Regions from separate parts of the Homo sapiens genome. Here all the other regions are linked to region 1. The links come from fine-mapping of genetic effects on gene expression. A gene starts in region 1. Each other region holds a variant in brackets. All regions are shown on one strand. Distances are between the middles of the regions.

Region 1 (2,767 bases):
AACCCCATCTCTACTAAAAATACAAAAAATTAGCTGGGCGTGGTGGTGGGCACCTGGAGTCCCAGCTACTCAGGAGGCTGAGGCAGGAGAATGGCGTGAACCCAGGAGGTGGAACTTGCAGTGAGCCAAGACCGCACCACTGCACTCCAACCTGGGCGACAGAGCGAGACTCCGTCTCGAGAAAAAAAAAAAAAAAAGAATTAATCATGTTACACCAGGCGCGGTGGCTCACGCCCATAATCCCAACACTCTGGGAGGCCGAGGTGGGCAGATAACTTGAGGTCAGGAGTTTGAGACCAACCTGGCCAACATGGTAAAACCCCGTCTGTATTAAAAATACAAAATATTAGCCGGGTGTGCGGACGCCTGTAATTCCAGCTATTTGGGAGGCTGAGGCATGAGAATCGCTTGAACCTGGGAGGATGAGGTTGCAGTGAACTGAGATCACACCACTGCACTCCAGCCTGGGTGACAGGATGACATTCTGTCTCAAAAAAAAAAAATTAATTGTGTCAGGGTATTTACAGAATAATTTAAGTAGAACATTAAAAGATATATATATGTACACACACACATACTATGTAACAATTTTAATAAATACACCATGATTATCAACCAGAACAGAACCAAAGAAAATTAGAACTATTATAGTAGATTGAGTGGAATTTTTTTAGGGAATCTTAACATTTTAAAATCATGTGGTAACAATATCATCACCTATGCTCCTATGTTCTGAATTTCTTCCTTCAATGGCTTCCCTTTAGCCACAGTTATCAGATCTGTCAGTAAAGTCCTAGAAAACATGTTTTTGAGGATGCTGAGGTGTTTTCTCCCTTGGCCTGTGTTTAAAATATTGTTCTTCCCCCATAACAAGTGCTCTCTTTAATCCTACATTTTAGACATTCTTTTGTATTTTCCCTTTTCTTATAGTGCAGATCTTCTAGAAGCTGTAACAATTGTAATTACCAATGATTCATGCCTTAGAGGTAATGAGTGTCAGACCTTGTCCTGAGAGAAACTATTAAAGGAAGGAGAGGTTGGGGAAGAAAGGAGACAATGACTGTTTGCCCCAATACTGAGGCATAGAAGTTCCCTGGGGAAGAGGTGGGGTTCAGAAAAGAGAGATCAGGGAAAGTCACTCCTCCTGACACAAATCTTTCTGAGGCATCTGCCTCTTTTTAAGCTCTGAGTTCTAGTTATCCTGGCTCAGGATAAAAATAATCCCACCACTGGTATCCTCCCTTTTTCTACTTCCGAGGCTGCAAAGTGCAACAGCAGACTCTTCTGACTCAGGAAGGCCGGTGCTCCTACCCACTTCCTGTTCCTCCATCTCCAGCGGACACTGCTCTTTCAAGGGCAGGTCTCCAGCCCAGCTCTCTGAAAACATTTTGCTGAAAATATAAGCAAACATCGGCCTTGTCCTCCTTGTGTTCATACACTGTGGAAGCTTTTCTCTGCCTCCTCCGTGAGAGTGCGTGGCCGGGAGACCAGAAACGTGGTCCTTTCTCTTGCCTGTGAGCTGGTGCAGAGGTAAGTCTGAGTATTTGTGCGTGTCATATTTGGATGTGTATGTGTGGGTGTTTGTGTTGTACATGTGTGTTTACATGTTTGTATGTGTTAACATGAATGTGTGTGAGTGATGTTTGTGTGTGTGATGTTTGTGTTGTGTGTGTATGTGAGTGTTGTGTGTGTGTTGTGTATGTATATTTGTGTTTGTGTATGTGTTTGTGTGTTCACCTGCATGTGTGTGAGTGGTACATGTGTTTTGTGTATGTGTGTGTGTTGTGTATTTGTGTGTGCTGTGGTGTGTGCAGGTTTGTAATGTGATAAAAAGAGCTGTGACCAACACGTCTGGAGAACTTTTTGCCTTGTGACAAAGTCACTGTTTAATATTTGGCAAGATGCTTCTCTGAGTTTTGCTTTCTTCCAGAGCAATATGACAAGGATGGTACTATCTGTTCCATCTTCTGTGTTGGAGACAATGCACACTGTGGCCAACATGGGAGGTGCCATTCCGGGGAGGGTCTAGGAGGAGGCAGGGAGGTGCCTTGCGTGCAGACCCATTCCCCGAACCCTGCGAAGGCACAGTGCAGGTTCCTGCATGCCACAGCCTAGTCCCACCCGGCTGTTGTTTCCTGTTAAGCTGCCTGCCCGTTCTCTCTAAAGGAGGAATGAGATTACATTGGTAAAGTGCTGCCTCAATTTCCACCAGGGATGTAAGGAAGCCAGGGACAAAGAGATTGAGAGGCCACCAGTTAGGAAGAACTAACTCCCTTTGGTAGGTGAAATATTGTACTCCTTCCAGAATCTGGCTGTTCAGGTCTGAGTAAGGCTGTCCGCCTGGCCTGCTTCTTCTTTCTTCCTAGAAAGTCAACAGACCTTCCTGGACTCCCTCCATGCCCAGCCCAGCACTGCAAAATTGATCTTTACCAATCATAAAGCAATATCCGCATATATACTTCTGGGATCTGGGGAGGACTGGAGTGTTTGCCAGGTGAACAGAATAGAACAAACATCTAACAATGTGGCAATGAGAAAAACATGTCTATCAGGTTCCCCTGGACTTAGGTTTCCCCACACCCCAGACCCTTCATCTGGATCTGTTTCATCTGGTTGTGAATGTCCTACATGATCTGGAAAAACAGTCATGGACCATGCAACTTCCTCCTCAGTCCCACAGAGAAAATCCAGCAGAGAGAACCTTATGGGATCTTGGCACAGAGAACTGTGTTAGTCTATGAAGCCAGGACACATTGCTGTCATGGGA
Region 2 (2,767 bases), 83 kb after region 1:
GGGCTGCACTGCAAGCAGACACAGCCAGGCTGGAGCCCTGGGAATGGGCAGCAGACCAAGGGGTGCTCAGGTCAGATGGGCCCTGTCTCATAGGCAAGACCATCCTGTCAGATTTCAGGTCTGACAGTTTCCCTAGGGTTAAAGTCTTGTATGGGGGCAAGTGGAGCGTTGGGGAATGGGTGTCCCTGGCCACACTCCACTACAGACGCTTCCACACCAAACCCTCTGGGCTCCACACTGGCTGGAGTTCTGCCTCTACCACTTCAGTGAACAGCTCTCCCCGCCAACTCAAATGTCTAGTGGTCAAGGGGTTTCCTCCTGCTGGGATTCGAGAGGTCTATGGTGAGAGCAGGTTGCTCTTTGCCTGTTCAACTCACTCCACTACAGGAGTCGTGGGGGGCCAGGAACAAATCCTAGTGGGGGGCCAGGAACAAATCCTAGTATGTGATAGTCCCATGCAAGGTTCTGAGCTTACTCCCCCTTCATCTCAGCACCTGTGTCTTCCCTCCATCTGCTTTCAATGCTTTCCCTCTGAAGATCTGCTAGGAGTAAGCCAGTTTTCCTGATGTTTTCATCCCTTGGTGGCAGATATTCCTCCTGGCTGCATCTAGTTGGCCATCTTGAAGCAGGCAACCTTGAGCAAATGTTTTAAAACTTTGATATTTGACAAACTTTCCAAAATTGAAATTTTCAAATTCTAACTCAGCCTTTTTGACCTCAAACTAACTTTTTGGATATTAGAGCCCCTGGAAATCACAGACACATTAGGCTTATTTGATATGTTAAAATCACATGGAAATGATTGTCAAATATGAAATGGTGTTTAATTTTCTTTGGGTTATAGTTTTAGACATGCATTATTAATATATGTTCCAAAATTTATGAGATTTCTAAAATTCTGATGTCTTAATATGTTCTAGTAATTATTATGTCAAATTGTTGTATACCACAGAAATAGCCAAATTTTCTTGTCAGTTGAGTCTTTAACCATGGCTATTCTAAGACCTTTGTCATTCACATATAATTATTGTTTTACTTTGATTCTTCTCACAAAGTG[G/A]CTTTTAATTATTTTAGTTCAAAATTTGCTTCCTTAAGAATATTCATGGAAAGGCCTCTGACAAGTACTCTTGAATACAAGTTTCAGATAACTTTGGAGATCATATCATTGGACTAGGTAAAAACTTTCAGGACTGCAGTTAAAAGCTAGTGCATTTATGAGGATTGCTAACCCAACATCAGGCAGAACAATAATTACTTACACAAAACTGAACAAATAGAGGACTGAAATAATTTTATGACTTCCTTGGTTGTAACATTGCTAATTCTTTTTGTGTTCTGTTTTCCAGAGTCAAGAAAACTTTTTTCTTTTGAGCTATTTATAGCTTACAACAAATTGAGTGAAGTATACTATTATAAGCAAAAATGTGAAGGATTTATCTTTCTCTCTACCTGATTTCTTCAGAATTTAGAAACTATTTGTGAACATTCTTAATTTATGGCAATATAATTATTTATATAAGTTTAATAATAATCTGTTTTCTTTTATAACAGGAATCAATTGGAGACTTGTTATTTTACCGAGGCTGTGAGAGAAATGGCATATTTTCAGATATGTCCAGATTACTTTGAGGAATTAAGGTTGACTTTTTAGACCCGAAAGGAAGCCTCTTGGAAAGACTGGCCTGGCACTTTTTCTATGCAGTTGCTTTACAAGGTTCCTGACCTGTGGTCAGTAAAGAATGTCACTTTATGACAGGCCCAGAAATCTCAAGTTATTTTGGGACTTTGAGAAGAAACAACTTCACACAATTCGTATGGGTATCACAGGCAATCTGATAAATCCCTGACTTGAATAGCTTTGAGAGGCCTTTCAAATCAGAGATTCCTTATGAAAAGTTCAAACAAAGCCAATCAAAAAAGCAAAACGTTATTCTTGCTGCACTTTATGCAAATAATTAGACCACATTTAACCAGACTAAAATCTACTTTGCACACAAATTAGTTTTATTATAATTTGTATCTGGTACAAAAAGGGATCCAGAGAGAGAGAGAGAGAAAGAGAGAGAGAGAGAAAGAAGGAAAGAAAGAAAGAAAGAAAGAAGAAAGAAGGAAAGAAAGAAAGAAAGAAAGAAGAAGGAAAGAAAGAAAGAAAGAAAGAAAGAAAGAAAGAAAGAAAGAAAGAAAGAAAGAAAGAAATTGTATTTCAAAAGAAACCTATAACATACCTGTCATTAGATTCTAGCCTTGAACACTGTTTTTGGTTTTTATTATTTGACAACTCATTAAAGAAGAAAAAACTCATAATTTTCTTTTTTCTTTAAAGTATTTAATTATTTATTTATTTTTATTATACTTTAAGTTCTGGGATACATGTGCAGAACGTGCAGGTTTGTTACATAGGTATCCATACGCCATGGTGGTTTGCTGCACCTATCAACCTGTTGCCTACATTAGGTATTTCTCCTAATGCTATCCCTCCCCTTGCCCCCAACCTCCTGACAGGCCCCAGTGTGTGATGTTCCCCTCCCTGTGCCCATATGTTCTCATTGTGCAACTCCCACTTATGAGTGAGAATATGTGGTGTTTGGTTTTCTATTTCTCTGTTAGTTTGCTGAGAATGATAGTTTCCACTTTCATCCATGTCCCTGAAAAGACATGAATTCATTCTTTTTTATGGCTGCATACTATTCCAAGCATATATGTGCCTCATTTTCTTTATCCAGTCTATCATTGATGGGCCCTTGGGTTTGTTCCAAGTCTTTGCTGT
Region 3 (2,767 bases), 33 kb before region 1:
CATGTCCATGTCTAAAGAAGTAAAAATAAGGCTCAGGAAGATGAGGAACTCAACCAGTGTTACTCAGAGAATGAAAGTAGAATCAGAGATGGAGTCTGTCTACCCCAAGCGCCTTGCTGCGAGTCTCATAAGGTAGCAGAATAGAAGCAAGGGGGCTGTGAAGAAAGTTTGCAGCCTGATATAAAAGCTGTCAATTTCAGGCCAAGAAGTGTGAACTGTAACCTAGGTGATCATGGCTTCTTGAGCAACACACATGGTAGGTCTGAGCTACATAATCTTGATCTGCTGGGTACAGACTCATTAGAGAAGTGAAGAGAGAAGTCCCTTCTAGCTACAGAAAGTCTCCCTGTTCTTCTCCTTTTCCTGCCTCTCCTTTGCTCCCTAAACCCTGTACTTCACTCTCCCACTGTCAGTTTGTGCCTCTTTCTGTCTCACTGCTCTTCCCTCTTTCCTCTCTCTTTCTTGCATGGTGTCCTGTTAATCCTGATCCCAGCTCCCAGCCCCACTACCTTAGGGAATATCCAACCTCATGGGACACCCATTCCTCAGTCCCACGCTGAACCCAGAATCAGTGGGTCCTGAAGGTCAGAAAGTAGAGCAGAGACACTGGCTTTCCTGAAAAGGCCACTCCAGAGCCTGCCTGTCTGCTCTCAGAGCCCGCTCTGCCTCCATCCAGAGAACGCATGTGCACACACCATGCTGGGGCCCAGCCACCTCCCAGCTTCTCCAACTTTTAGGTCTTATCCTTTCTGAGTTTAGCATCTCTATGGGAAAAAAGGCTTTAGGAGTTCATTCAGTCTGGAGAATAGGCAATGATTTCTGTCTCTGAGTGGTGGAGCACATTTCAGGGCATAGGCAGACTGCCAGGCTAGAGTGATCAGAGATGGTTGCAAAGCCCCTTTGCCTGTAAGCATGACTCATGGCCATGAGACATTCTCATACTGTCATAGAAACTGGAATTTCTACTAAGAGAATTATATTGATATTAACAAAGGGAAGGGTATCAACTCCAAAAGCCCTCGT[TGTA/A]CTGCATTAAATTACGTAGGGACTTTCTCCGCCCGCCTCCCCCAGCATTGTCTCTGCTGCGGTGCATTGACACATTCATTCTTTCCCTCTCTGAGTGGCATGGTAGCATCCATCAGGACTGTGTTTGCATCACTAGGGCTCCTCGCTAGCATGGAGGCCCTGGTTTTCCACTGGAGCCCATCAGCATGGACTTTGCCATTAGCACCCTAGCACCTGTGCCTCCCACTGACAAGTTCACCACCTCATGGAAAGAGCAGCAGCCTGGGGGTCAGGAGATGAAGGTTGGGGGCATGATGCTTGTTTTATGGTTAAAGTGAGGATTGCGGGAGGTGACTTAAGTTCTCTTCCCACATCAACATCCAAAGTTCTCTGATATTTCTGACCTTACCCAGTGAGCACGAAACTCTACTCACCCATTAGCACAGGCTGGCCAAATGACCCATCAACAGAGACTCAGTTCTCAGAGAGCTGTGGGAACACAGCTGAACTGCACAGGGCTGGTTCTGAGGACCTGTGATCCCTAATGGAGACCATACCTGGTGACCAGACCAGGAGAGTGACAATGCCAACCCTGGGAGGTGAGGAGTAGAGTGCCCTGTCCAGGGAGCTATGTTCGTAAAAGCCCGAAGTTCTGGGGTCTGACCCCTGAGATTCCACACAGTGTTGACTTGCAGAGACTGAGGGGCCAGTATGTCAGCTTTGTCCCCCTCTTGGTGCAAAATAACCAAGGAGGCAGGTTGTGCTGAGAGACATGGGCACTCAGCCCCCCTTTCTTCATGTTCCAATCCCTATCTCACCTTACCACAAACCATACTGTTCCCCTGAAAGCCCCTGGTTTCTGACCTATTCCTCAATATCATGGGGGAGCAAAGCGTGCCCAGGAGGGTCAGGACAGGAAGAAAAGGCCTCAAGAGTCAGGATCGCCTCCATCCCAAGGGCTTTGCACTTAGGTTTGGACAATGTCTCCTCATAGTTTCAGTTCTTCCTTTGCTTTGGCAATGCAGCATTTTTCTTAAACCAGTGTTACCTGCCATTTGTAGAAGTTTGTACCTCTTTATTATACAGTGTAGAGGTTTTTGTTCATGTGCCTCTCAGCATGTCCCCAGGAGGTCTGTGGTCTACAACTGATGTGAGCCCATTTCCCAGAACCTTCTCAAGATATGAAAGCAAGACTGTTTATTGTAAATTTACCTGTGAATGCAGCAACACTACTTCCTGTGGCTGCAACAGCCATTTTCTGTCTCACCTCCTCCATCTGTTATCTCAGCCTTCACATACAGTGTGGTTTCCACACAGGACAGAGTTAGAATTGGGGCCCATGTCCCCTCCCTACACATGGGATGTGCTCTGGATGGCTGGAAGGCCAGACTGGGATGAGGAGGAGTCTCTCCACGGACACCTTGCGGAATTGTGCTCAGGCCCCTCTGTAGACCCTCCCCAGGCTGGTGCTGACCCAAGGGTGACAGGAGAGTTATTCTCTGAGTCTGCAGACCCACACACGGCCTTATTCAGACAGACCCAACAATGACCATTTCTGACTTCCTCAGGAGTAGGCAAGATGACCACTTAGTTGAAGCAGGTGCCTCTGGCCTAACCTGCCATGCAGGAATCTGACAACTGAGTTCTGAAAGCCTAAACTGCTGACAGTTTTAGTTTTAGATTTGCTGCCTATTTGGAAGCAATGATAACCTACATTCTTTTTATTTTATTTCATTTTAAGTTTCAGGATACATGTACAGGA

What was found. PIP is the estimated chance that this variant, and not a neighbour inherited with it, causes the effect. A credible set is the group of variants that fine-mapping cannot tell apart.
Region 2: its variant is the best candidate, but not a certain one, in a credible set for the expression of GIMAP6 in whole blood (INTERVAL, PIP 0.89).
Region 3: its variant is the best candidate, but not a certain one, in a credible set for the expression of GIMAP6 in whole blood (TOPMed, PIP 0.50).

What each region holds. Positions count from the first base shown.
Region 1 is chr7:150,630,932-150,633,698 of GRCh38, reverse strand. It overlaps GIMAP6 (GTPase, IMAP family member 6), which reads left to right and starts at 1,314. Exons shown (of 3, transcript NM_024711.6): 1 at 1,314-1,530. RefSeq lists enhancers at 1,364-1,453, 1,464-1,553, 1,824-1,903.
Region 2 is chr7:150,548,362-150,551,128 of GRCh38, reverse strand. LOC107986860 (endogenous retrovirus group K member 19 Env polyprotein-like) reads left to right here. Exons shown (of 2, transcript XM_017012936.2): 2 at 1,552-2,054. The coding sequence ends at 1,589. Among named protein-coding and RNA genes, the nearest start is that of GIMAP4, 18 kb to the left of the region's middle. The variant G/A (reference allele first, on the strand shown) is at 1,058.
Region 3 is chr7:150,663,514-150,666,280 of GRCh38, reverse strand. The region is part of intron 2 of LOC124901774 (a long non-coding RNA gene); the gene reads left to right. Among named protein-coding and RNA genes, the nearest start is that of GIMAP2, 21 kb to the left of the region's middle. RefSeq lists an enhancer at 1,977-2,196. The variant TGTA/A (reference allele first, on the strand shown) is at 1,024.